Homo sapiens: one gene and its partners. The protein of the gene in region 3 interacts with the protein of the main gene of each other region in a biochemical or structural test. Each region holds a gene or a part of one and is shown on either strand. Other genes may lie near its edges.

Region 1 (6,867 bases), on a different chromosome or scaffold from region 3:
TTGGGAGGCTGAGGTTGCAGCCAAGATTGCGCCACTGCACTACAGCCTGGGCGACAGAGCAAGACTCTCAAAAGGAGGCATGAAATGCACCTCAATCTTTTGCTCCAAGTCTGCCAAAGATTGTCAAACCCTCCCTGTTAAAAAAAAAAATCAGTTTACCTACTCTCCCTTCTATATAAAGGACCCTAAAATTAAATGTCAATGCCAAAATGCGAAGTGCAGATCGTCTTCTCTCCTAAAAGAAAAGAAATAATGATTAGACTCCTGAAGATCCTACTTCAACTTAAAATCTAGTATACTAGATATGTTTCCTGCATGGTTTGTCTCCCCAGTCATTGTCCACAGGACTCTGGGAAGCTGTAGGAATATGCAGGCGCAGACACGAGGCCCAGCTTCATCTTCAACGTTGTGGAAAGGGACTGTACATCATGGGGCAGAGCCCTAAGCTCCCCTATGCCACTTGGACAGAGCCTGGGGAGAGTGACCTCCCAGGGTATCCACGTTGGAATGCTCATTAGTGAGGAATTGGAGTAACCGACAAATCCAATATTGCTAATCACCCACAGTATTTTCAAGGGCTAGTATCTTTCTCAGCTCAGGCTACACATGTAGATAAAGCCAATTAGGCTTCCTACAGTTCACTAGGGCAGCTTTTACTACTTTGCACTTTTAATGAGCTGACTAAAAAAAGCAATTTTTACAGAACAGAGCATATGTTGAAGTTATGTCAACATGCCTACAAAAATGCAGCAAAGTCGATATTTGGCTATTGCTCTGAGAATGATTAAATGCCTCAGAGGTAAATCCTGACCAACTAGAATAAAAGTCTCTTCAATCCTATTTCCATTACAGAAATCATTGACAAAGAGCTGATAAGCAAAAAACAATTAGCAGATTTACTCACCAAATAAGAGTTACTTGGAATCCTTAACAAATCCTGCAAAACAAGATATTAATCTATTAGTACAGCAAAACCCTAAACTTTTTCAACGAGGGGCCTCATGCTATCGCCTGGGGTTGGAGTACAGTGGCACTGGAGTATAGGTTTGAGTATAGGTCACTCCTGGGCTCCAGCGATTCTCCTTCCTCCAGCTACCTATCATCATGCCTGGCTACTTTTTAGCCAATTTTTCTTAAACATGTATTAAGACTTCAATCCAGCCAGGTGTGGTGGCTCACGCCTGTAATCCCAACATTTTGGGAGGCCAGAGGCTGGCGGATCACAAGGTCAGGAGTTTGAGACCAGCCTGACCAACATGGTGAAACCCTGTCTTTACTAAAAATACAAAAATTAGCCTGGCGTGGTGGCGGGGGCCTGTAATCCCAGCTACTCAGGAGGCCAAGGCAGGAGAATCACTTAGCATAATCACTTGAACCCGGGAGGCAGAGGCAATGGAGTGCGCCACTGCACTCCAGCCTGGGCAACAGAGCGACTCCATCTCCAAAAAAAAAAAAAAAAAAAAAGACTTCAATCCAGATTCAGTGCTCTAGAAGGCTGTTTCCTGCATGGTTTGTCTCCCCAGTAATTGTCGACAGGACTCTGGGAAGCTGTAGGAATATGCAGGCGCAGACACGAGGCCCAGCTTTATTTCCAACGTTGTGGAAAGGGACTTGTACATCATGGGGCAGAGCCCTATGCTCCCCTACGCCACTTGGACAGAGCCCGGGGAGAGTGACCTCCCGGGTGTATCCACGTTGGACAATCAGTGTAACGCATAAATTTACAGAATCCAATAGGAAACAATTTCATCCATTCATGTTACTACAGATCTTAAACAAGAAAGCAAACGAGTTTCCACCCTGTCCACAGTGGGGTGTTAAAAAAAAATCGGTTTCTAGACTGGTAACATGCATATTCAGCTATTCTAATTACTTTACAATAGGCGGTTAGTACTATGTGGAAGGTACCGCAGAAGCAAAGACAACAATTAGGCCCAGCTATCCTAAATTCAAATGAAACACGTGGACTTGTTAATTACCCCCAAATCGGCCAGGCACGATGGCTCACGCCTGTAATCCTAAAAATATAAAAATAAAAATGACCCAAATCACAAAAATACGAGAAAGCATAATTACGAAACGCAATGCTTCCAAATTATGAAAATCTTCGGCCTGGCGTGGCGGACCACAAGGTCAGGCGTTGGAGACCAGCCTGGCCAACATGGTGAAATCCCGTCTCTACTAAAAATACAAAAATAAGCCAGGCGCGGTGGTACACGCCTGTAGTCCCAGCTACTCGGGAGGCTGCGGCAGGAGAATTGCTTGAGCCCAGCAGGCGGAGGTTGCAGTGGTGCGATCAAATAAAAAGAAAAATTGAGAAAATTCTTAAAGGCAAATGAGGATCCAGAATAAAACTGTGTGCAATTATATTGAGAACGACAATGTGCCTACTATGAGGCAGTAAGATAAACAGTGGGGGTGGCGGTGCACCTTCAGAGGCTCGCTGGGTCGGGCGGCAGCCCTGCGGGTCCCGAGGTCTCCATGGCCCACTTCTGGCCCAGGCCCGTCTAACGCGTACTTTAGAGTTGGGACCGATGCCGCCTAAGACACCCATATATAGTTTTAAATTACATGATTTCCGGCCAGGCGCGGTGGCTCACGCCTGTAATCCCAGCACTTTGGAAGGCCGAGGGTGGTGGATCACCGGAAATCAGGAGTTCAAAACCAGCCTGACCAACATAGCGAAACCCCGTCTCCACTAAGAATACAAAAATTGGCCGGGCGTGGTGGCACGTGCCTGTAATCCCAGCTGCTGGAGAGGCTGAGGCACGAGAATCGCTTGAACCCGGCAGGCGGAGGTTGCAACGAGCACTGCAGTCCAGCCTGAGTGACAAACCGACTCCGTCTCAAAAAAAAAAAAAAAGTAAATAAATAAAATACTATATGATCTTCCTAGGGAAGCTCGGCTACTGATCTATAGCATTAGACCCACAACTCCGGTGGCAAGCATCTGATCACACTTACCAAGGATCACACTTACCAAGGAGAAGAAGCGACCACTGCGAATCTGTCTCCAAAAAGGAGAGAGAAAACGCGAAGCATCCTTTTTAAACCTTACGAAGTGCCCGGAAGTCCTGGAATGTCTATTGCGCGTGCGCAGAAGCATGCGCAGTTAGAGAATCAGAAACTCACTGAGGCTTCTGGGAATCTACTGCAGATTGAGCCCCACCCCTTCCTGGCTGGGAGGCCTCTCGCGGTAGTGGATCCTTCCCGCGGGACCTTGCTGGGGAATGTACGTTACAGAAATAGGTTTGTAGGTATGTAGCTGCAGAGGACGTTTACTTCTGTGCAATCACTGGACTCAGTCTGTAGGATATGCCCTTAGATAAACTGGCCAAAAAGTTTTTGGAAGAGTCGAACGCGGTGGCTCACGCCTGTGATTACAGCAGCTCTGAAGGCCGTGAGGGGCGGATCGCTTGAGGCCAGGAGTTCGAGACCGGCCTGGGCATCATGGCGAAACCCCGTCTCTACAAAAAATACAGAACATAAGCCAGGCATGGTGCCGCGCACCTCCAGTCCCAGCTACTCGGGAGGCTGAAGCATGAGAATCGTTTGAACCTGGGAGGCGGTGGTTGCAGTGAGCCGAGATCGCGCCGATGCACTCCATCCTGGTCGACAGAGCGAAACTCTCTCTCCAAATAAATAAGTAAAACGTTGGAATAATAAGAATGCAGAATGAAAAAAATACATATAGAGAAATACGGAGTATCAAAAGGAATTGAATCTGCTCTGTCACCTGTGAAAGAAATAATTTGATAAATGTGAAGGTAAATAAGATGAAAGTGCCCCTAGACGAATCAGATAAAAGTTTAAAAACTCCAGGCCTGGCCCGGATAAAAATAAATAAAAATAAAAAATAAAAAACTCCATTGCACAACAGTGTGAATGAATGTAATTAAAAGCACTGCCCTATACTCTTTCTTTTTTTTTCGAGATGGAGTTTTGCTCTGTCACCCAGGCTAGAGTGGAATGGCGCGGTCTCGGCTCACTGCAACCCCGGCCTCCCGGGTTCAAGCGATTCTCCTGCCTCGGCCTCCCCAGTAGCTGGGATTACAGGCGCCCGCCACCGTGCCTGGCTAATTTTTGTATTTTTAGCAAGACGGGGTTTCACCATCTTGGCCAGGCTGGTCTCGAACTCCTGACCTCAAGCAATCCACCCGCCTCGGCCTCCAAAGTGCTGAGATTACAGGCATGAGCCAGCGCACCTGGACTTTTTTTTTTTTTTTTTTTTTGAGACGGAGTCTCGCTCTGTCGCCCAGGCTGGAAGGAAGTGGTGTGATCTCGGCTCACTGCAACCTCCACCTCCCAGGTTCAACCAGTTCTCCTGCCTCAGCCTCCCGAGTAGCTGGGACTATAGGCATGCCACCATGCCCGGCTAATTTTTGTATTTTTAGTAGAGACCGGGTTTCACCATGTTGGCCAGGCTGCTCTCGAACTCCTCACCTCAAGTGATGCCCGCCTTGGCCTCCCAAAGTACTGGGATTACAGGCCTGAGCCACCACACCTGGCCCCCTATACATTTTAAACTAGTTAAAAATGGCAAGTTTTATGTATATTTTACCACACACAAAACCCTCTGAATATGAAGTAGGCAAGTAAAGAATGCTTACGATATATATACATAAGAAATGTTGCAAATATGATGGAATTTTTAGTGTGGTGTAAGGTGGAAAAACGTTGGCTAGAGAGACAGAGCTATCACAGCTGGGCTATCTTGAGTAGTAACGTTTATGGTGTTCCTCCTACATATTAGATTTTGTTCTGAATGCTTTATTACGTACATTATTTACTATCGCAGCAATTCTTTTTTTTTTTTTTTTTGAGATGGAGTCTTGCTCTGTTGCCCAGGCTGGAGTGCAGTGGCTCGATCTTGGCTCACTGCATTCTCTGCCTCCTGGGTTCAAGCAATTCTCCTGCCTCAGCCTCCCGAGTAGCTGGGACTGCAAGCAAGTGTCACCATGCCCCACCAATTTTTGTATTTTCAGTAGAGACGGGGTTTCACCATATTGGCCAGGGTGGTCTTGAACTCCTGACCACGTGATCTGCCCGCCTTGACCTCCCAAAGTGCTGGGATTACAGGCATGAGCCACCGTGCCCGGCCTACAAATTTTTTTTTTTTTTTAGATGAAGTCTCACTCTGTCCCCCAGGCTGGAGTGTAGTGGTGCGATCTCGGCTCACTGCAACCTCCGCCTCTCAGGTTCAAGCAATTCTCCTGCCTCAGCCTCCTGAGTAGCTGGGATTACAGGCGCCCGCCACCATGCCCAGCTAATTTTTGTATTTTTAGTAGAGACGGGTTTTCAGCATGTTGGTCAGGCTGGTCTTGAACCCCTGACCTCATGATCCACCTGCCTCGGCCTCCCAAAGTGCTGGGATTACAGGCTTGAGCCACTGCGCCCGACCCCGGCCTACAAAATTTTAAAAAAAATGTTAGCTGAGTGTAGTGGCACATTCCTGTAATCCTAGCTACTTATGAGGTGTGAGGATCACCTGAGCCCAGGAGATGGAGGCTGCAGTGAGTCGTGATCATGCCACTGCACTCCAGCCTGGGCAACAGAGCAAGAACCTATCTCAAAAAAAAAAAAAAAAAAAAAAAAAAAAGACATTTCTGATGTAGGGTTTGTCGTCCCACTGGAATTGCAAGGTAAGAGAAGAACTTGAGGATACCAGAGTTTCAGGCTTAGGAGGCTGAACATACTATGGTCTCTAACCTTGATAAGTGGAAATGCAGGCAGTGGGGGAGGAGTAATGTCCACATTGGAGTATATACGAGTTACCTGAGTAACATCTGGTTGTATATAAGTCCAAAGAGCAATTAGATATATGGGGTTGGGCTTCCTGTAAGAAATCTGAGTTGGTGATAAAATATTTAGAAGTTGTAAGAATTAGCATGGTGGCTAAAGTCGTCTTGGAAGAATGAGGAGAGTGATGGGAAGACATGAAACCCCAGCATTTATTTTATTTTGAGACAAGATCTCGCTCTGTTGTTGAGGTTGGAATGCAGTGGTGTGATCAGGACTACTGCAGCCTGGACCACCAGGGCTGAAACGATTCTCTCACCTCAGCCTCTTCTGAGTAACGGGAACTAGAGGCATGCACCACCATGCTCAGCTAATTTTTTAAATTTTTGGTAGAGATGGCCTCTCACTATACTGCCCGGGCTGGTCTTGAACTCCTGGCCTGAAGCGATCTGCCAATCTTGGCCTCCGAAAGTGCTGGGATCACAGGCATGAGCCACCACACCCGGTAAAACACAGCATTCATTTATTTTATTTTATTCATTTATTTTTGGATGGAGTCTCACTCTTGTCACCCAGGCTGGAGTGCAGTGTTGTGATCTTGGCTCACTGCAACCTCTGCCTCCCGGGTTCAAGCAATTCTCGTGCCTCAGCCTCCCAAGTACCTGGGACTACAGGCACATGCCACCACACCCAGCTAATTTTTTTGTAGTTTTAGTAGAGATGGGGTTTCACCATGTTGGCCAGGTTGGTCTCGAACTCCTGACCTCAGGTGAACCACCTGCCTCGGCCTCCCAAAGTACTGGGATTACAGGCGTGAACCATCGCACCTGGCCGAAAACCCAGCATTTAAATGGTGTTCGAGGAAGAAGCCAGCAGCACAGAGAAAGGTCAGTCAGGGAAGGAGAACCAGAAGACAGCGGTGCCTCAGAAGCCAAGGAAGAAGAGTTTTGAGGACTAGAACATTGTCCAAAGCACCAAATGTTGCAAAGCAGCCAAGTGCAATAACCGAAGGCTGAGAAATCCCTGGTGACCACAGGAAAGCCATATTGGTTTGGATTTCGTTTAGATTTTAATGAGCTGAGTGAATATGGCCTTAGGTAGGGAAAACAATGTGCACAGACCAGAGGT
Region 2 (7,978 bases), on a different chromosome or scaffold from region 3:
CATATGCCACTTCTTGGTTAAAAATTACAAATATGCACGCACAGTTAAACCAAAATCAGCTGTACATTCTATTAGCTATTAGAGTAAACAAATGGCCTAGATGTAATCTGAACAAACTAAAAGACTATAGGTATTTAGTGACTGCTCAGCAATATTTACCACATGACAAAATGATGTTGCTATAGATTTCTTTCAAAAACAAATGAGGTATTAGAGAATTTTCAAAGGTTTAACAAGACCCAGCTTGAAGTGACAGAAAAAACCTTCATAATGTGTTTTTATAATGTCCTTCACATCAGACTACCAAGGGTCCTGTGCTTGTTCAAACCTGTAGTCTCAACCACCCTTTGTCTCCCATGAAATCTCCATCCTCCTTCCTCTCAAGAGTTTCCCTACACATCCCAATCCCAAAAGAAAAATCAATAGCTTACAAGAACACAAGAACAGCTTTTCTAAAGAACCATCACCAACTTAGAATTTGTTAAATAAAACAGAACCGAGAAAGAAATCCAGCCTTAGAACACTGAAACATCTAAGTGCCTGACACATAACAGGCATTTATTTGGCAACGGTATGTTGACTAGACACACAATATTGATAAAAAAAAATTTTTAAATGTAGTAACTGGACAGTACATGTGATAATATAATCTGCCCAACTGGCTTTACTGATTTGGAAGCTGAAACTCAAAAGGTTAAAGGACTTGTCCATGGACACAGATATTTTGGAGCACAGCCATGACTAAACAATCCTTGTCTCCTACTGCACTGTTCCCTTCAACAGGTCATATACCTCAGCCCCTCATGTAAAAAGATACAATATGTACACAAAATACATAAAAAGATACAAGCCAAATAAAAAGCAATTTGATGACTATTATTTCTCAAATATAATTGAGGTAGTTAACTTCAAACATTATCAGTCTTAATACACCTTTCCCATAATATAATTACTTCACCGATCTAAAAATGTTTTATGATATCAAATTAAAATGTCTTAGGCAACTGCCATGTGCAGGAAGTTCATTATAGTTTCAATAATGTGGTACTGCTGTAAACTTCCAGGTTAAAAGTAATCATCCTTACATGACTGAAAGTTTAATCAGATACATATAAGTTACACATAACAAGAACAAAACTATAACACTAGGAAATGTTACTTTGTGCTTCAAATTATTTATTGGTAAAGAAAGCATTAAGTCAGTAAAAGCAGCATCTAAGAATAGAGAATCTCCTTATTTTCAATTTTCTCATTTGTAAAATAAGGAGTTACAGAAATACAATCTTTGGAAAAGGCCCAATATGTAGCAAGATAAAAGTATAAAAGTAAAGTGTTTCAAAGAGAGTTGGGGACCAAGCTATGCTAAATTCCCAAGTGCTCTGGAACCCTAAGTCTCAGCAGAGTAGTGTTTCAACAAATCCCTCCACTTTTCGGAGCGCAACACATGTAAAGTGGTTGTGTTTAAAACCCCAACGTGCAAGTTTGAAAAGACTGTTTTACAAAACAATTGTTAAAATGTCTAATTTCTCTCAATAATGTCAAAATCATTTCCTTTGAGAAAATGATACCTATCTCTCATACTCTTCCAACCACTTCTTAAAACACATTCAGCTCATTATTCCAATGAGCAGGAAACTTGCGGGGAGGTGGGGCTAGCACACAGATCCCATGGCTTGGACAACTGAAGCATGACTTTTGTGGATTTGTACCATGTGGTGTTTCAGGAGAGAAGAAAAATACCTCAGGTGATGAAATTTTCAAAACGTATCTAAAACTGCAGTTGGTAGAAGGCTCTCCACAGCCAGCTGTCTTTCAAGAAAAGGCTCCAAGTTTATTTAAAATCTACAAGCAGAACAGAACCATACCTCAACCAAGCTCTAACATCAAGAAGTTTTACCCGATTTACGTAGTTAAAAGGATAAGAAATCGGAATTTACTTCAATGGATTTGTTCGATGCCTTAATAATGAATGAACTAGAGGCATCACTCACTGACTTGAGTTCTGAAGGAGTCTCTCAGCCCTGCCCCCTGTAAAACCTTAAGCAATTTCTACAGAATTAGGTTTTTCGAGGCTAAGCCCGGTTCAAAGGAAGTCTCCCCGCCTCCCTCCCAGGGGCTGAAGCCCAGGACAGCCGGGGCGGCGCGCCCGAGCGGGTGGGGGCGCGGGGACGCCCCCTCCCCGCTCGGGAAAAGTTCTGCAGGCCGCTCTCCGGCCAGGCCGGCCTGCGGCCGTCGCCTGCTTCGCCGCCACAAACACCCATCTCGGCCGCGGACGGCCAGAGGGTCGCGCCCCCTCCCCGCGCCACCGCAACTAACACCCCGCCCCCGCCTCCCCGCCACCGCCCTCGCCGAGCGTTAACCCCTCGCCGTCCGCCGCCCGGCTCGGGGGAGGAGGCCGGCCAGGGGGTGGAGTTGTCGCGTCTCCTCCCGGGAGCGCCCGGGCAGACGCCCGGCTTGTTTACAGGCCCCAGGCCTGCCCGCCGCCGCCGCCGCGCAGGCCCGCACCGCCCGCCAGCCCGCCGTCGGCCCGAGCGCCGCACTTACCCGGAGCAGCCGCAGGCGGGCAGGTCCCTGGTCGGCCGAGGCGGCGGCGGCGGCAGCCGGGGAGGGGGTCACCGCGGCGGCGACGGCGGCAGCCGGGGGAGGGGTCACCGCTGCAGCGGCGGGCCAGGTCAGGCTGGGGAAGGGGCGGAGGAGGGGAGGAGCCGGGCTGCGTCCGGGCCCCCGGCTGTCGGCGCCCTCGCGGCTCAGATCATCCGGGCGTTGGAGAGGGAGGCAGAGAGCGGGTCCCGGAGAAGGAGGAGGAAGAGCCGAGGACTCATCGCTTTCGCGCCTCAGCTGTCTAGAGTCCCCCCACCCCCCCCTCCCCAACCACCCGTTCCGGAGCAACAGCCGCCTGAGGACCCGAAGCTGCGGGCCGGACGAGCGCCGAGACCACTGCTCTCTAGCTCCCGCGCGCGCTCCCGTCCCTAGCGCCGCCACCGCCGCCGCCGCCGCCTCTAGCGCGGCCCCGCGCAGGCGCGCTCACGACCGCGTCGCCCCTCCCCCACCCCTCCGCTCGCCCCGCCCCGCTGGCTCCGCCGCCGCTACAGCTGCGGCGCGGCGCGCAGCTACAGAGACCCGGATGTCGTTGGGCAGGAACTGCGGTGAGGGCTGGCGGGCGGGGGAGGGGCCGCCACAGATGACGTCACTGCCTTACCCAGCTTCTTTCTCTGCCGCTGCTGCTGCCGCCGCCTTTGCCTTACGGCCTGGAGCACCAGGCCGAAGCCGAAGGGAGCGTCCGGATCCCGGATAGCAGCCAGGACCCGGGCCTTCACGTTCCGGCGCCAGGGACTGGACAGAATGTGCGGCTATTAGGTGCCCAGTAGATCGACAGCCCCTCCGTGCCGGCCCTTGGCCAAGTAGGGACTCGGAAGCTACCCCTACGGCGTCCGCGCCCGGAGCCCTGGCTCTTCTACCTGCCTGCAGATACAAACCCCACTCCCTGCGAAGATGGTGTACACGCAGCCCCGAGCACAGACCCGAAGCTGTCCACCCTTCTTGGGCGCCGTCGCGGTCTGGCCGCTGCCCTTCGAACCCATGGTGGGTCCCAGGCAGCTGCCAGACCCCCCTACCCCAGAGTCCCACTCCTCCAGAGCCTTCCTCTCCCAGTGACCCCAGGAAGCCCAAGCAGGTGCCACGGCCACACACCTCGCGACCCAAAGGGCAGAGACACAAGCACGCTACCACCGCCCACCAATGTGCGAGTGCAACTGATTCACGCACGGGGCACATGCTCTGAGTTTCTGGCAGGTTTTCCCTCTATAGTTCAGGGGATTCCACATTGTATTTATTTGCACATGTTAGATAATCACGTGGTTCTGTCCCAGGGGACCTCCAACGACCTCCAATGAGGTAGGTTAAGGGAACAGGATTTTTCAAAATCAGGAGAATAATCAGAAACATAACAGCTGCTTCTATTAAGAGGTAGAGATGAGCTAAAGTTAATAGAAACTGCACGTGCCAGCGGCCAAAATCCAGTTTAGCTAGCTGGAAAACCCGACCCACGCTGCTTGCAGACGCCGGGGATAGAATGACAAACCCTAGGCAGCCAATGAATCGCAGCCTAGGAGCAGTACATCACCAGCACGGGTTCCCATTGGCTGGGGTGCCCTTCCCTCTCTTGTCAGCGGCTTAACCAGTTCACGAATTTGACCTACACCACATTCGCAGGAAAAGAAGTTAGAAGAAAAGTCCGTATTTTTAAAAGATGTTCTGATGCACACACAAACCAAAGACTTCATTGTAGAAGGCAGGTTCTTTTACTGGCCAAATTGAGTTCTGGCCAGTAAAAAAGGTAAATTTATGTTGAAGGCCTCTCTATTTTACTTGAGGAGCTCACTATAGCAATTTGCACCCTACTACTTTCTATCTCCTAAACCATTTTGTTGCCCCAACTCTTAGATCAAAAGCAACCTATTTATTCTTTCTGGCATTCAGCAAATATTTAGCTGCTGCTTTTAAAGTTGTAAAAAGCCATCTCTAATTTTCTCAACATGACTTTGGGGAAGGTTCTGTTTCCTTCACTTTTTTTTTTTTTTTTTTTTTTTTTTTTGAGACAGAGTCTCGCTCTTTCATCCAGGCTAGTACAGTGGCACAATCTCGGCTCACTGCAAGCTCCGCCTCCCGGGTTCATGCCATTCTCCTGCCTCAGCCTCCCGAGTAGCTGGGACTACAGGCGCCTGCCACCACGCCTGGCTAATTTTTTTGTATTTTTAGTTCAGACAGGGTTTCACCGTGTTGGCCAGGATGGTCTCGGTTTCCTGACCTCGTGATCCACCCTCCTCGGCCTCCCAAAGTGCTGGGATTACAGTCGTGAGCCACTGTTCCCGGCCAGAATTCCTTAGAAGATGATCGTGGATCATTTCCACATATACAAAATAAAAATAAAATTCACTATGCATTTGGTCTCAGTATCATCTGAGGATACATTTCCTAATTCTCCACATATCTCCCCGACCCCCCAAAAAAAGAAATTAGATCAGAGATCTTTGAAACGCTACCTTCTTGGAATCCTTAATACTCCAGGCAAGTAACAGCATGAGTAGCATGCTGGTGGACTCATTAACATTCTGAACTACAAAAGCTCATATGGCAACCATTTAGAGTGCTCTTAAAAGACAAATTTTCTTATTTATAAGCAGAAGCTGGGTCACTAGTGACGGTAGTGGACCATAGAAAACTTGAAATGCCTGCCTATCTTTCTGCTTCCTTCCTTTAGGCTTCCACACCTTTCTTCTCTCTGTTCTGCACTTGGAGAATCTGGGTCAATTGTAGAAGAAGAGGGAGAGAAATAGAAAATATGAACAGAAAGAAATTTTTAAGGAGTCTACGCATTGTACAGACTGCCGATAAAGCAGCACCTTCCTACTATTTATTTCTGAATACAGCTTGCAGGGACATTTTGGTATGAACTAGGAAACTCATGGGTTATAAGATTAATATTTTAAAAAGATATCAATATTGTCTGATTAAATATGTTTAATATCATCATATCCCCTTTTATTAAACCTTATGCTAAGAAGGGGGGACAGATAGAAGGGGAAAATAACATTGAAAAAAGAGGATTGAAAGTTCTCTTCTGAACTGTAAGACTTTGCCGGGCCTCTACACATATTTGGGATGTTCACAGTAAGATTTTAGTGGGAATATATTGCCATGATGATGACATTTTAGTAATTTTTATAGGTATATTATAAAACTATCCTGCTCTGCTTTGGAAATCTGTTTATATTTCAATTAACAAAGAAAAAGATTATCTACAAGATTGGCTTTAAAGTCCTGAATTTAGTGTGTGTTGATAGCCTAGTAATTGGGAGGCTTGGGGTGAGGACAGGGGCTGTAGTGTGGAGTCTAAAGCTTAATCTGATCAGCAATACTCTCTTTCCCTTTCCACCACAATTGTGACTTAAAAAAAGGTTTACATTCCTGCTCCCAAATTACTCTCCAGGAGAGTCACCCTTGAGGCAGACTTGCCTGGGCCTCTCAAAATATATGCAGTAATGTAAATGACCCCCTCAGGAGGCTAGTATTTGAGAATACCCCTCACCATCCTTTTCCACTGAAGCCAGTCACTACTCAAGAGTTAGAAAGCCAACCAGAACATAGGTTCAACAATTCCTTCCTCCCTCACTACCTGTTTCATATTTTTTTCTCTCACACATCCTCTTCATTTGGTTTCCTCTTTTCTCATTTCTCCTTCTCTCTCCTCCCTTTTTCTTCTCTTCTCTTTTTGCCTTCTTTGCCCTTCTCTTCCCCATTCTTCTTTTCTCTCTTTTCATTAGCTTAGTACAAATTGTAGCTTCTGCTACCCATTTTCTCCCAGAACAGAACATGCGAGCAGACAGTGCCCCTAAATGAATTTCATTCAGGGAGAGGGTGTGCCCCCTACCCTGGCCCTCCTTCCTCCCTCCCCTACATCATAATACATTATGAGAAACTTAGCTGCTTAGAGGACTGTTACAGAATCAAAAGGATTAGAGAATCCTGTCCTGTGTGACATCACTGGGCAGCCCCATTAGGGAGGGGCAGAGGGGAGCAGCCAGCAGTCTTATGCTACCACTGTGGCTCATCCTGCGACCTGAGAGAAACCTGGGCAACTGTGAGCACCAGAGGCCAAGTCCTGGACAGTCTTTAGGGTAGGCTTTCACCTCAAGATAGCCATATATGGCCACAGCCTTACAATACTAGAGTGGATCTTGTCAGATAAGTTCATCTGTTCATGAGATAGCTATTGTGCACCAAGCACTGTGTGGGACACTGGAGGTAGATAATGACATCAATGGGCAAGCCCTGCCCACAAAGAGCCAACATAATAATAAGAGGCATAGACAAATAAGTCAGCAGATAGAAAGGAAATTGCATACTGTTATCCATGCTGTGAAGAAAATAAATAAGGAAACAGATCCGGGAGACGACTTGAAACAGGTGTTCAGTGCAGACCTCTCTAAGAAGGCAGCATTTGATCTAAAGGATGAGAAGGAGTCAGCTTCATAATCAGGGGAGAACTTTCCAGGTAGAGGGGTCAGCATGGGCAAAGGGCCTGATGTGGAAAAGAGCTTGGCAGAAAAGAGTTTCTTACAGCCCAAAGACAAGTTCAGCAAACTCAAGGCAAATAGTTTATGGTCATTTAAGTTTCGAGAGTGTTTCAACGTGGACATTAGGGATATTTAATTTATAATCAGGAAACTACATTATGTGCACGGGTATAATCCATAGAAAATAACTTGGTGAGTTGGTCTGGTGCAAAAAGCAAAGCAACTTTTTTAAAAATTGAAATTAAAAATAGTCTGGGTGCAGTGGCTCACACCTGTAATCCCAGCACTTTGGAAGGCCAAAGCGAGTGGATCACTTGAGGCCAGGAGTTCAAGACCAGCCTGGCCAACATGGGGAAACCCCGTCTCTACTGAAAATACAAAATTAGCCACACCTGGTGGCACACGCCTGTAATCCCAGCTACTTGGGAAGCTGAGGCAGGAGAATCGCAGGCAGGAGAATCACTGGAACTCAGGAGGTGGAGGTTGCAGTGGGCCGAGATCATGCCCCTGCACCCTAGCCTGCATGACAGAAAAAAAAACACCTTTATTCAACTATTGAAATTGAGAAGTATTCCATAACTCCAGGAAAGACCCGTCAGACAATCCAGCAGCAGCTAGAAAAGAGTGAATTATAAGCTTCAAATAAATAGTTTTCATCCCAATATAGGTACCTATTTGTGCTAAGTAAAGACTAGCACAGATTTGAGTGGGCTTCTTCAGAACAATTCTTCTGGGTGTTTACTGTCTATCCTGGGCATTACAGAAGATCTCAAACTAAACCATACTTTTGAAAGCAGCGACACACTGCATCCTTAACAATGGTGGCCTGGTTGAAAACAGTAATGAAATTGTCATCATCATAAAGCCTTTTATCTGAACCTGACTCTGCAGTTTACAAAGCA
Region 3 (7,022 bases):
CCAGCTGCTATGCTGAGTCTGTCAAATGCACGATCTGCTTTAATCCTCACGAGGCCTGGGAGGGGGATGTTAGGGACCCTGTTTGACCAACAAGGAAGCAGAGGCTCAGAGGGTTAAGAAACCATGGCTCTGGCTGGGCGCGGTGGCTCGTGCCTGTAATACCAGCACTTTGGGAGGCTGAGGCGGCGGGGAATCACTTGAGGTCAGGAATTCGAGACCAGCCTGGCCAACATGGAGAAATCCCCACCTCTACTAAAAATACAAAAAATTAGCTGGATGTGGCAGTGGGCGCCTGTAATCCCAGATATTTGGGAGGCTGAGGCAGGAGAATCGCTTGAACCCAGGAGGTGGAGGTTGCAGTGAGCAGAGATCATGCCACTGCACTCCAGCCTGGGCGACACAGCAAGACTTCGTGTCCAAAGAAAAAAAAAGAATCCATGGCTCAAGTTTGCCCTGGAAGGAGAGGCTGGGATTTGACTGAGACTGCGAAGTGCACGTAAGCCTCTGACTTCTGCAAGAAGCCAACCCCACCAAATTCAAAGCAGCTGTCTCCCCAGACTCAAGGCAGAGATTCCACAGGGCCTGAACTCCACAGGCCAAGCCCTTCCCCGCCTCTTGCCCTCCCTCCTTGGAGGGAACAGCCCCTGAGGGACTCATTATTTTGCCTAAAGCCATGGCAACAGCAACATCAACTTTCCACGTTTCTCGACTTGGGCTTCTGTTGGACGGTGAGTAACAGAAAGGAAAGCAGAAAACACAAGCCGGTGCTTTCTGCATGCTAGAGAGGTTTTTGTTTATTTCAGGGCCCTCCCCGTCGACACTACTGACATGTTGACACTGGGCCCAGAACATTCCCTGTGGTGTGGCTATCCTGGGCACTGCAAGGGGCGGAGTGGCATCCCTGACCTCCAGAAGTACCTCCCAGTTGTGACAACCACAAAAGTCTCTAGACACAGCCACCGATACCGCCTCTCGAGCTTTGAAAGAAGCTTCTTGCCAGTGGAGCTGCTAGAGATGCCGTAGCACATTCCATGTCTGTGGCTGGGAAAGGTGGTGCTGGCTGACCCTGGTCTTCCTAGAGTCCCAGTGCATGGTCCAGGGCCACTGTTTCCAACCACTGCCATCCCTTCCCCACCACACAATCTCCAAACTAGGACCACATGTCTGGAGGGCAGCCAAGAGGTGGCAGACGCTTTGCTCCCTTTCAGGAGAGAAGACAGTGTTGTCACCCCACCCTGCCCCACTTAAAAAAAAATAAGGTGACAGTTCTTAATGGGGGCGATTCTACTCCACAGGGAATACTGGCCACGTCTGGGGACATTTGTGGTTGTCAGATGTCAGGAGCATTGGGTGGGTGGAGGCCAGTGATGCTGCTCAGCACCCTGCAGTGCCCAGGGCGACTCCTCAGAAACTAAGAATGGTCCAGCCGTAATGCTGCTAGTGCTGAAACAGAGAAACCCTGAAATACGGGAACAGAAACCTCTGGGCAGAGCTGAGAACACTGGACCGTGCTGTCTTTCTTCTCTGCTATGAAAGCCTGAGGCCTCAGGTTCAGTCACCTTCCCTGTCCCCGCTACCATGAGAACCAGGGACCCTGACTTGAGAAGTCACTGCAGGTGAGGGCTCCGAAGCCTGGGCTGCTGGTGGGGAAGTGCCAGGGCCCAGCACACGCACACCAGCAGCAGACTGTGCCGTGAGCCATGGGGCTGCCTCGCTAACACCTTCTTTGTCCCACGCTCCCCTCCCCTGTTAAAAGGAAAATCTACCTACTTGCCTGCTGTTGAACCTGGGGAAGGCATAAAAAGTCAATGTGCTGGTTCAACAGCTCACATACCTTAACTCTGTCCCTCAAGTTCTGCCCAAATACAAAGGCTTGCTGTGTGGCGGGGTCTTTTTTCTCACAGGCTTCCTCTTCAGAGGCATTGCTGGACTCATTTTTCTGGGGCTCTTTCTCCTATCAAAAACCAAAACAAAACAGAGTAATCAAAACCAGTGCCACACTTGGCCCAGACGGATGCCCAGCAATCCCACACCAGATCATGTACTCCACACGTCTCCTCTGCATGTGCCTGCACTCCCAGCTACTCAGAAGGCTGAGACAGGAGGACTGCTTGAGCCTGGGAGTTGTAGTGAGCTGAGATCACACCACTGCACTCCAGCCTGGGTGACAGAGCAAAAACCTGTCTCCAAACAACAAGAAACACCTGTGCCCTGCAGAAGCCTTAGTGCCGGCAGAGGACAGGAAATAACCTGGTTGCTCATCATTGGCCAAGGAATGAAATAATTTACAATAGAAAATATGGGGGAAAAAAAGTACAGCACAGCTATTACCACCGAGAGGGAGGTAGGCCTCTGACATGCCCACAATACATGGATCAGAGAAGAGAGCAGCTTGTGGGACACGGAAGTGCGATTCCATTTCTGTTAAAGCCAATCCAGTCCCGTGTGTGTGGTGTGTGTGTGTGTGTATGTGTGGTGTGTATGTGTGTTGAGGAATGCCCAGGAAAATAAGTCGGGAGAGAGAATTCAAACTACTGACGGAGGTTACCCGGGAACCTCTTAGCTGGAGGGTGGCTCCTGCTTGTTACTTTCTAGGATTTCCATTTTGTGTAAATATTTTCAACATGTAGGCATGACTTTTTTGTAACTAAATATCCTAAGACCAAATGCATTTATCTTGAGATAATGGAATATGGAGTTGCTAGTAATTTGTATATGTCTTTCCTATACCACATGATGAAAAAGGTGTTGTAGAATTTGAAAAGAAATTTTAAAAGGCTTTTGGCAGATCTTTGGAGTCTCTGGCGATGTGTACAGTGGACATGAACGTGAGGCAGGGAGTGTTTTCCTGGGAGATGTCGTGAAGGGACCTGACAACCGTGAACTCGGAGGTGAGAAAGGCTGCAGGCAGCTTCTGACTGGCTCAGCGTGTCCAGCGGGCAGGGAAGCCTGGAGTTACAATGCCAGGCCCAGAATCAGCGGATCACAGCGCTGAGGGCACTTTCTGGTCCAACTGTGAAGGAAGTGAAAAGTGTAAATGTTTCTCTACTGTGCTCCCTAGAAATTCTGCTACTGCTGACTTCACGCTGCATCCTTGTGCCTGTGCAAGAGTGAACGTGGCTTTTTAAAATTAAACACACAACGTGTTTGGCGACCTGGAAGTCCTCAGAGGATGGGCTAATCCCCAGCCCCACTGGGGCCGCCTGCATCCCGTCCAGCAGAAACACTCCCTGGCTCTTGGCTTTCTGCGCTGTGTGCCCCCTGCTCACACCGACTGGTGCTAATCCCGGGTGGGTGGAGCCCACAGAGTCACCTGAGATGGGGCAGGCAAACAGCAAAATGTTTCTGACTACAGGGTATGTCTATGACCTGGCGGAGCCTGCTTAGAGGATTCGCTTAAACTGATAAACGAATCCCGAGGCCTGTAACCAGTCTGAGACTCTGTGTGTGTGTGGGGCGGGAGGGGAAGCCTCTTCCCCACTTTCCCAAAGACGGTACCAGGAGTTCCCCCATGGGTCGCCCCCAACATCTAAGCCCTCCTTAGAGGAGATGCCTCATAGCTCACGTTCCCGATGAGCAGTGTGTGCCATGTTCATGGGCGGCTTGGAAAAGCTCGGACTCCTGCTGTAGGGCCAGAGAAGGATACACACAGCGAGCCTGGCGAATCTCAACAGTACTGGGTGTGGTCAGAGGGCAGCGTGGGTGTGGCCGCATGGCTCCACCCCAGACCCACATGGAGCAGTGGCTTTGGAGCCAGACGCAGGAGCTGGGAATGGCAGCCAGCACATCACAACTTCTGAGCTCAACCATTTGGGAACAAGCTGTGTGCACTGCTGAGAAGGGGCTGGAACCGGCAGGAAGACGGACTCCGTCCCCTGGGATGGGACACAGCAAGGCCTCTCCAGTGAGGAACAAGCTCTCGGTAGCGGGTGCTACCAGGTCAGCCTGTGCACTCACCATCGGGGACAATCAGAGACACTGGGAGATGGCGGGACGGGCTGGGTCACTTCTAAGTCCTTCTCCAACTCAGAACTGCACACCTGATCTGCTCAGGAGACCTCAGCAGTCAAAGCTTCCAAGCCGCAGAATGCGGTGGAAATGATCCCTATTTCCAATTCAGCAAACTCGTTTGAAAAAGGGCGTGAGGATGTTTTCAAATTTAATTGTGGACAGCCATTTTCACCCTTTGAGCCAGAACATCTACTGGGGATGGAGGGTATAAAACTGCAGGCCATGGACACAGAGCGGAAAATAAACACAAAGATCCAATCTGGCTTTTACACAGAAGATACCACATGGTGTTACCCTAATTCTGACTTCAAACCCATCTCTGCCAACTTCAAAGGAGGCTCTTCATCAAAGGCCCTTATTTCACAGTGGCTGTGAAACACAAAGCTTTTGGCCCATATAATCCAAACCATACCCCCGCTTAAATGGAACTATTTCTTTTTTTAAGGCAGGGTCTGGCTCTGTCGTCCAGGCTGGAATGCAGTGGTGTGACCTCGGCTCACAGCAGCCTCCCCTTCCCGGGCTCAAGCAATCCTCCAGCCTCAGCATCCTGAGTAGCTGGGACTACAGGTACATGCTACCATGCCTGGCTAATCTGTGTATTTTTTGTAGAGACAGAGTCTTGCTATGTTGCCCAGGGTGGTTTTGAACTCCTGGCCTCAAGCAATCCACCTGCCGCGGCCTCCCAAAGTGCTGAGATTGCAGGTGTGAGCTACCGTGTCCGGCCTAAACAAACTATTTCTGAGATGACTCCCAAAGAAAAATTTTCAACTGGAACCACACAGATAGGAGTCTCTGAGGGGTGGTTTGGGTGTGGACACAGAGAGGGGAGACATTCCTCATGTTAAACATTGCAAGACACCCATCAGTGACAGCCGTTCCTCGGGCCCTAGTGACTCCTCAGAGTGCAGTGGTTCAGGTCCTCCCTCAAGGATCACTCCCGTGAGACATGTGGCGGTCAGCCTTGGGTAACAGGCCCTTCCGGCAGAACTCTGGGCAACAGGTCCTTCCGGCAGAGCTTGCTTGGGAGACACTCTTCTTCTGCCTGACCAGCAAGACCACCCTTGGGAATCTAGATCTGGTTTGTCAGGTACTGTTATTTAGAGCCTACTGAGCAAATCCAGAGAGCCTTACAATAGGCCCACGTGGAAACTGCTTGGAACAGGTGACAGCGTGTGGACTCCACAGCATGCTGGGAAGGCTGCCCTCCCGCTCCCAAGGGGCCTAGCATGCAGCGCTTCCCTGCCTCAGGACCCACTGACCTCAAGTGCACACACCTCATCGGCAGCTTCGGAAGGACTTCTCCATGCAGCAGTGTCAGGGGATGCTGCGGGCACTGCCCCCGTGCAGTCTGCTGGGAGGCTGACCCCGTTGGTGCCACTGCTGGGGACTGTGGGAGGGAAGGAGAGTGGGGAATCACAGGTGCTTGGCGGCCCTCCCACCCCCACTCACATAGCTGAGGGGCTGGGCCACGTCTAGTCTAGGGCCCCTCCCATGGTAAAGCCCACAGCACATGTCTCCTTTTTAAGGAAGGACCTGGTATCTCTACAAAGAGCCAAAATTCTTGGATTTAAAAAAAAACAAGAGAAACAAACAAAAAAGAGAAACCTGCCGGGCACAGTGGCTCATGTCTGTGGTCCCAGTGCTTTGGGAGGCTGAAGCGGGGAGAATGCTTGGGGCCAGGAGTTTGAGACCAGCCTGGGCAACACAGCAAGTCCTCGTTTCTAAAATAAGATAAAACAAACTGGCTGGGTGTGGTGGTGCACACTTGTGGTCCCAGCTACTTGGGAGGCTGAGGTGGGAGGATCGCTTGAGCCCAGGAGTTCGAGGCTGCAGTGAGCTATGATTGCACCAGTGCACTCCAGTCTGGGTGACAGAGCAAGACCCCATCTCCAAAATAAATAAATAAATAAATAAATAAAATGACCTTTCAAGTTTTTAAAGATAACCTGTGAAAATTGAGGCTGAAATTCTATCTGCAAACACACAGGGATAAATCTCATTCCCAGGAGCCGGCCTGCTTTTATGAAGACAGTGAATGAACAAAGCAGGTTTCACCCACACAGTCACACTCAGCCGAGAGCTGTGAGGAAGCTGTGGAGCCGCCTCTCCCTTCTCCGTTGCCAGGGCTCAGGAGGCTTGGGGCTGGAGACGGCTGGGGGGTGATTTAAAGGATCATCTTCCCTGATCTCTCTGTATTTCTGGTGCATTCAGCAGTCACCTCTGTCGCAACACTGCTGTCCCGGGTGCGACTTCGGGAACGCTCTACCCTGCCGTCTGGGCCTGGGCGCCAGGGCTGCTGTTTCTTACCAGTCTGGGACAGCGCCTTTGGCTGCGGAGCTTGTAACACTGCCGGGCGAAGCACGCTCCGCTGCTGCTCCTTGGGCTTCTGGCTTGGCAGACCTAGGAACAGAAGGCGGCCTTCCCAGTGCCCGTGGACCCCTGCCTGCCCCCAGGCGCTTCAGAGACTGACCCCTGGCATCCCATTTCATGCCCCTTGCAGGCTAGACTTTGCAGGGAAGCACTTTTTTAAAAACTTGAGGTCTTTTTTTAACAGCTGGCCAGGAGATCTGGCTACTGTTATTTTTACATGTGATTACATGAAACTCCCAGTGACCGACGCCTGTGAATTAATCCAGTTAGCACAGTAACGTGGCGGGGCGCCGGCAGACTCAACAGTCAAGTGGAGACTGTGGGAGGAGAGCAGTGCATTCACAGGCAGCTACCTGGAGGCTCAGGACTCGGTGTGGGGTCACGTACAGGCACATTTTGCACCTGTTTTTCAAAACAGCCATGCTGAGGAAGTCCCTCTGCCAAAGGCAGATGGGACAAGGACCCTTGCATGTGCCCTGCCCTGTGCAGCATCCCCGGCAGCCTCACTAGCAGCCGGCTCACTAGCAGCGCGCCGCTGGAATGCAGCCACCCTGCTAACTGGGGCGAACACTGTGGTATGTGGGGGCCAGAACATGAAGGACAGACAGGCTGAACCAAGTGCGCTACTGCTGGGCATGGAG
Region 4 (7,022 bases), on a different chromosome or scaffold from region 3:
GCCTAGCAAATTTTAAATTTTTTAGTTTTACTTCATTTATATTTACATAGTTTTTTCTGTTGTGCTTTAAGCCCCAGTATTTTTATTGTTTTAGAGATTGGGTGTCATTTTGTGTTGCTCAAGCTGCTCTCAAATTCCTGGCCACAACAGTTCTTTTTGCCTCGGCCCTCCGGAATAGTTGGAATTATAGGCATGAATCCCTACACATGGCTGGCTTGTGGTTTTTTTGGTTTTGTTTGTTTTTAACTAAGCTTCTACACTAATGATTTCAGTGATCTAACGATTTTTTTCTTGATTGATATATTGTTGAGTATAGGTCCGTTTATTAATGGTTAGTCGAATGGCTAAACCAGAGGAAGTATTGGTTGTAGAGAATGATCAAGGAGAAGTTGTGAGAGAATTCATGAAGGATACAGATTCCATAAATTTGTATAAGAATATGAGGGAAACATTGGGTAAGTTAATAAATACTGTTAATCTTTACCTTTATAAATCTATTCTGGGGTGGAAATACATTTTAGGAAATGTACTTGTAGTTTCTAAATATTTTCTAAATGTATTGTTACTCATCAATAAAATTCTGCTCATTATTTGCATTTGAAACCATGTTTTTCTTTGTAGTTTATCTTACTCATCTGGATTATGTAGATACAGAAAGAATAATGACAGAGAAGCTTCACAATCAAGTGAATGGTACAGAGTGGTCATGGAAAAATTTGAATACATTGTGTTGGGCAATAGGCTCCATTAGTGGAGCAATGCATGAAGAGGACGAAAAACGATTTCTTGTTACTGTTATAAAGGTATGCAAGGGATAGGTATGAATTAGAATTGCTAAATAAGTATTATGTTGTTACAATAAATAATACAAATTTGTCTTATTTACAGGATCTATTAGGATTATGTGAACAGAAAAGAGGCAAAGATAATAAAGCTATTATTGCATCAAATATCATGTACATAGTAGGTCAATACCCACGTTTTTTGAGAGCTCACTGGAAATTTCTGAAGACTGTAGTTAACAAGCTGTTCGAATTCATGCATGGTAAATCTCTTTCTTTACTATATTTTGCTTTTATTTTTATTGAAGAAAATAAATGAATGTTTTTGTCTTGTTAGAGACCCATGATGGAGTCCAGGACAAAATAAATGAATATTTTTGTCTTGTTAGAGACCCATGATGGAGTCCAGGATATGGCTTGTGATACTTTCATTAAAATAGCCCAAAAATGCCGCAGGCATTTCGTTCAGGTTCAGGTTGGAGAAGTGATGCCATTTATTGATGAAATTTTGAACAACATTAACACTATTATTTGTGATCTTCAGCCTCAACAGGTATGTTAAGCACTGAGCATATGTTATTTTTAGAAAGTAACACTTGTATCAATCTGTATGTATCAATGGAAATAGGAGGGCAACTATTGGATCCAATAGAAGTGTTTCTGATTAAATTTTCTTTCTTTTTTCCTTGAGACAGGGTCTTACTCTGTTGCCCAGGCTTGAGTGCAGTGGCACAATTACGGCTCACTGCAGCCTTGAACTCCCAGGCTCAGGTGATCCTCCCACCTTGGCCTCGTGGGTAGCTGGGACTACAGGCATGCACTGCCATCACACTCAGCTAACCTTTTTCCCCCCCTTGGTAGAGATGGGGTTTTGCCAAGTGGCCCAGGCTGGTCTTGAACTCCTAGCTTCAAGCGATACGCTTGCCTCAGCCTCCCAAAATGATTTTATATGTGTGAGCCACCACGCCCAGCCTGGTTAAATTTTCATAGTGAGACAGATTCTTGACCAGAAGATTGTTAGGCTGTTGTCCTATGTAAAATTATTCCGAACAAACAAAATCAGGTGTTTTTTGTTTTGTTTTGTTTTGGGGTGTGTGTGTGTGTGTGTGTGTGTGTGTGTGTGTGTGTTTGTTTTTTGAGATGGAGTTTCACTCTGTCGTCCATGCTGGAGTGCAGTGGCGCAATCTCGGCTCACTGCAGCCTTGCCTCCTGGGGTCAAACGATTCTCTTCCTCAGTGGCTATGATTAACAGGTGCTTGCCACCACGCCCAGCTAATTTTTTTATTTTTAGTAGAGACGGGGTTTCTCCATGTTGGTCAGGCTCATCTCCAACTCCTGACCTCATGATCCGCCCGCCTCGGCCTCCCAAAGTGCTGGGATTACAGGCGTGAGCCACCACCATGCCTGGCCAGTTTGGGTTGTTTGTTTGTTTGTTTTTTGAGGTGGAGTCTTCCTCTGTCACCCAGGCTCGAGTGCAGTATTGCAATCTCGGCTCACTGCAACCTCTGCCTCCCAGGTTCAAGCAATTCAAACCTCCCAAGTAACTGGAATTATAGGCACCTGCCACCACGCTTGGCTAATTTCTTTGTATTTGTAGAAGAGATGGGGTTTCACCACGTTGGTCAGGCTGGTCTGCAACTCCTGACCACAAGTGATTGGCCTGCCTTGGCTTCTCAAAGTATTGGGATTACAGGAGTGATCCACTGCACCTGGGCCAAAATCAGTTTCAAGACGTTTGTGAATTGCTTGTGTGTGGTTTTCCTTATTAGGGTGTATAACATAAACGTTAAAATGTCTGCTTTTTAAAATAGGTTCATACGTTTTATGAAGCTGTGGGGTACATGATTGGTGCACAAACAGATCAAACAGTACAAGAACACTTGATAGAAAAGTACATGTTACTCCCTAATCAAGTGTGGGATAGTATAATCCAGCAGGCAACCAAAGTAAGTATTTCTACCTTTTCTTAAAAGTTTTCATGGGATTTAACAAGACGTGTTCTTTACAAATGTATTGAATTCAAGCCTTTTAACATGTATGTGTGATCCATAAGTGCTTTTATGTGTGTCTTTCTATAATTTATTATCTGGGCGAGGTGTGGTGGCTCACGCCTGTAATCCTGGCACATTGGAAGGCCGAGGCGGGCGGATCACCTGAGGCCAGAAGTTCGAGATCAGCCTGGCCAACATGGCAAAACCCCGTCTCTACTAAAAATACAAAAATTAGCTGGGCGTGGTTGCACATGCCTGTAATCCCAGCTACTGAGGAGGCTTAGGCAGGAGAATCACTTGAACCCAAGAGGCAGAGGTTGCAGTGAGCCGAGATTGAGCTACTGTTCTCTAGCCGAGACGACAGAGCAAGACTCTGTCTCAAAAAAAAAAAAATAAATGAAAAATCTGGGCCGGGCTCGGTGGCTCACGCCTGTAATCCCAGCACTTTGGGAGACCGAGACGGGTGGATCACTAGGTCAGGAGATTGAGACCATCCTGGCCAACGTGGTGAAACCCCGTCTCTACTAAAAATACAAAAATTAGCCAGGCATGGTGGTGGGCGCCTGTAATCCCAGCTACTCGGGAGGCTGAGCCAGGAGAATGGCTTGAACCCAGGAGGCGGAGCTTGCAGTGAGTCAAGAGCATGCCACTGCACTCCAGCCTGGTGACAGAGGAAGACTCTGTCTCAAAAAAAAAAAAAAATACTGTAATTTCCATTCTCATTTGATATTAAAATAGGAATAGGCTGGGTGTGGTGGCTCATGCCTGTAATCCCAGCACTTTGGGAGGCCGAGGCAGGCGGATCACCAGGTCAGGGGATCGAGACCATCATGGCTAACGCAGTGAAACCCTGTCTCTACTAAAAATACAAAAATTAGCTGAGTGTGGCGGCGGGCGCCTGTAAGTCCCAGCTACTCAGGAGGCTGAGGCAGGAGAATGGCGTGAACCTGGGAGGCAGAGCTTGCAGTGAGCCGAGATCACGCCGCTGCACTCTAGCCTGGGCAACAGAACGAGACTCCGTCCCAAAAAAAAAAAAATAGAACTATATTACTTCATTCTTAAGTAGATGTAGACAAAAAGGCGTTTGTGTTCGTTTTTACCATTTGGGATTATAAATATGGTTTAGGGTAAGGGAAGCGTAATGGCTTTTGCTTTGGTAATTATGTGGATTTTTTTTTTTTTTGAGATGGAGTTTCACTCTTGGTGCCCGGGCTGGAGTGCAATGGCGTGATCTCGGCTCACTGCAACCTCTGCCTCCCGAGCTCAAGCAGTTCTCCTGCCTCAGCCTCCCAAGTGGCTGGGATTACAAGCAAGCACCATTGTGCCTGGCTAATTTTGTATTTTTAGTAGAGACAGGGTTTCTCCATGTTGGTCAGGCTGGTCTTGAACTCCCGACCTCAGGTGATGCACCCGACTCAGCCTCCCAAAGTGCTGGGATTATAGGTGTGAGCCACCTCGCCTGGCCATTATGATGGATAATTCTTTTTTTTTTTTTGAGACGGAGTCTTGCTCTTTCGCCCAGGCTGGAGTGCAGTGGTGCGATCTCGGCTCACTGCAAACTCCATCTCTAGCGTTCACGCCGTTCTCCTGCCTCAACCTCCCGAGTAGGTGGGACTACAGGCGGCTGCCACCACGCCTGGCTATTTTTTTTGTATTTTTAGTAGAGACGGGGTTTCACCGTGTTATCCAGGATGGTCCCGATCTCCTGAACTCATCATCCGCCCGCCTCGGCCTCTCAGAGTGCTGGGATTACAGGCGTGAGCCACTGTTCCCAGCCGTGGATAATTCTTATATGATAAATGGAATTTGCTTTTTTTCCTCCAAGAATGTGGATATACTGAAAGATCCTGAAACAGTCAAGCAGCTTGGTAGCATTTTGAAAACAAATGTGAGAGCCTGCAAAGCTGTTGGACACCCCTTTGTAATTCAGCTTGGAAGAATTTATTTAGATATGCTTAATGTATACAAGTGCCTCAGTGAAAATATTTCTGCAGCTATCCAAGCTAATGGTAGGTGATTCTGATTTCTTACACAATGCAGTATAAACAAACCACTTCTCTTCTACTGCCTTAAGTCAAACATTTGATGTTTTTTACAGATTTAAATCAGACCTCCCATTTCCCAAATGACCCTAGACATATTTAAAACAGTTAAGTGTACCTTTCCCTTTTAAAATTAGTCTTAAAGCTTATTTTCCCAATAAATTTTGTGAACTTTTGGCTTTAAACTTTTTAATGGTAAAATGGAATTGCATCTAATGTACACCTGAGTACCACTGTATAAGTTTAGTGGTAAAATTAGATTCCATTTGATTCTGTTTTGTAGGTGAAATGGTTACAAAGCAACCATTGATTAGAAGTATGCGAACTGTAAAAAGGGAAACTTTAAAGTTAATATCTGGTTGGGTGAGCCGATCCAATGATCCACAGATGGTAAGTGAGAGATGCTTTGCTTTTGATTTCTAGTGTTGATGCTGTGTTTTATGGAATATGCTATACTCTATTATGTGCATTTTGCTAATTTAAAGCATATCAACTTTGTGGTTATTTTATGGCATTTTATTTATTGTAGTCCTTACGTTAATATACTAATAGCTGTATTCCATCTTCAAAAGAAACTGCTGTTAATCAGTAGCGAAGGGTGGTGATATGTAACAAGATAGCTAAGAAAATTGGGTCATTTTATGTTTCCATAGATAGGTTAGGAGGATTTAATTAATGGAGTACCGGTGCAGTTTTTGCATTCCTCTTGATTTTTAGAACAATTGCTAGAGCTACAAAGTTGTCATTACTTTACCTCTTTAGCAAAGTGATTGCTTCCCAGATTAAAGGCCTGAAAGTCTTTTTTACACCCTTTTTCCTAAATGATTTGCAGAAAAGGAAATCATTTTCAGTAATAAAAACCAGCTGCGTATGCCTCAACTTGTAAAATTGTGAATTAGTTTTAGGTTTTAACTGTATCGTTTCATTCTTGTTATTCAATTGAGCCTTGGGAGAGTCCAAAAAATTCTAATACTACTATTACTTGGAATAGTGTTGGTTTTTTGTTTTTTGGTTTTTTTTTTTACAAGTGTGCTAGTTATTTTCATAGTTTTGAAATTTCAGTATTGTTTCTTGTTAAGGAAATACTTTTCAGTAAACTTGTTCTGAATATAATTCTTGTGGAATACTTAAGTTGGCTAACCTAAATATCGAAAGGTTCTGAACATGCGTATTATGTGAACAGAACTGTATTTAAAATTTGAAAGCAGAAAGTAAGATGTATTGAAGGAATTGTGATGTTTGTAATTTACAAGAAGCTTGAGCACGTGTCGGGAGCACAGTGGGAATAATACAAAGGGTATCATCTTTTGTAACATTAATGTTAAAGTTTGGGATATTTGTTCACATGAAACATTGTGTTTATTTTCCTTGTCTTGGCTTTTCACGGTGGCTCATGCCTGTAATCCCAGCACTTTGGGAGGCCGAGGCGGGTGGATCACTTGAAGTCAGGAGGCTGAGGCAGGAGAATCACTTGAACCCCAGAGGTGGAGGTGACAGTGAGCCAAGATTGCGCCATTGCACCCCAGTCTGGGCCACAAGTGGGAAACTTCGTCTCAAAAAAAAAAAAAGAACAAGAAGTTACTCTTTAAGTATAACTCAGTTTACTTAGAATCATGAAAATCTTACTGGGCATTGTAGCATGCACCTGTAATCCCAACCACCAGGGAGGGTAAGGCAGGCGAATCACCCCAGCTCAAGTCCAGTTTAGGCAACATGGCAAGATTCAGTTTCAAAAAAATAATAGAAATCCATAGTCTTTCTTATTTTCTGAGAGTAATTGATTGATGTTATTTCTGCTTGTGAAAATACTCACCAGTTAGCATTCATTAGATTAAAACATTAGTCTGAGTTGGGTGGATCACGAGGTCAGGAAATCAAGACCATCCTGGCTAACACGGTGAAACACCCCGTCTCTACTAAAAATATAAAAAATTAGCTGGGCGTGGTGGCAGGTGCCTGTACTCCCAGCTACTCGATAGGCTGAGGCAGGAGAATGGCGTGAACCTGGAGGCGGAGCTTGCAGTGAGCCAAGATGGCACCACTGCACTCCAGCCTGGGCGACAGAGCAAGACTCCGTCTCAAAAATAAAAAGACAGTATTGAGGGCTCGCTTGCTGCCATCTTACATATACAGTATACGTAGAATCCTGATTCTGCCACCTAAGTTGGAGACACCCACTGAATTTTGAGCCTCACTTTTCTTATTGT

What was found.
Region 1: the proteins of RANBP3 (region 3) and RCC1 form a complex in vitro, tested with the Homo sapiens proteins (2 studies listed by BioGRID).
Region 2: the proteins of RANBP3 (region 3) and PPM1A form a complex in vitro, tested with the Homo sapiens proteins (one study listed by IntAct).
Region 4: the proteins of RANBP3 (region 3) and XPO1 form a complex in vitro, tested with the Homo sapiens proteins (2 studies listed by BioGRID).

The regions. Positions count from the first base shown.
Region 1 is NC_000001.11:28,502,198-28,509,064, reverse strand, and holds the start of RCC1 (regulator of chromosome condensation), read right to left. Parts: upstream 3,023-6,867; 5' UTR 2,981-3,022; intron 2,846-2,980; exon of another isoform or gene 2,738-2,845; intron 1,701-2,737; exon of another isoform or gene 1,494-1,700; intron 938-1,493; 5' UTR 905-937; intron 508-904; exon of another isoform or gene 303-507; intron 236-302; 5' UTR 160-235; exon of another isoform or gene 1-159. UniProt on the Homo sapiens protein: Guanine-nucleotide releasing factor that promotes the exchange of Ran-bound GDP by GTP, and thereby plays an important role in RAN-mediated functions in nuclear import and mitosis.
Region 2 is NC_000014.9:60,244,244-60,252,221, reverse strand, and holds the start of PPM1A (protein phosphatase 1A), read right to left. Parts: upstream 3,002-7,978; 5' UTR 2,545-3,001; intron 2,061-2,544; exon of another isoform or gene 1,741-2,060; intron 1-1,740. UniProt on the Homo sapiens protein: Enzyme with a broad specificity. Negatively regulates TGF-beta signaling through dephosphorylating SMAD2 and SMAD3, resulting in their dissociation from SMAD4, nuclear export of the SMADs and termination of the TGF-beta-mediated signaling.
Region 3 is NC_000019.10:5,926,134-5,933,155, forward strand, and holds part of RANBP3 (ran-binding protein 3), read right to left. Parts: intron 6,412-7,022; coding exon 6,319-6,411; intron 5,399-6,318; coding exon 5,271-5,398; intron 1,955-5,270; coding exon 1,835-1,954; intron 1-1,834. UniProt on the Homo sapiens protein: Acts as a cofactor for XPO1/CRM1-mediated nuclear export, perhaps as export complex scaffolding protein. Bound to XPO1/CRM1, stabilizes the XPO1/CRM1-cargo interaction. In the absence of Ran-bound GTP prevents binding of XPO1/CRM1 to the nuclear pore complex.
Region 4 is NC_000002.12:61,486,348-61,493,369, reverse strand, and holds part of XPO1 (exportin-1), read left to right. Parts: intron 1-316; coding exon 317-455; intron 456-621; coding exon 622-803; intron 804-888; coding exon 889-1,045; intron 1,046-1,171; coding exon 1,172-1,335; intron 1,336-2,593; coding exon 2,594-2,728; intron 2,729-4,598; coding exon 4,599-4,782; intron 4,783-5,098; coding exon 5,099-5,205; intron 5,206-7,022. UniProt on the Homo sapiens protein: Mediates the nuclear export of cellular proteins (cargos) bearing a leucine-rich nuclear export signal (NES) and of RNAs.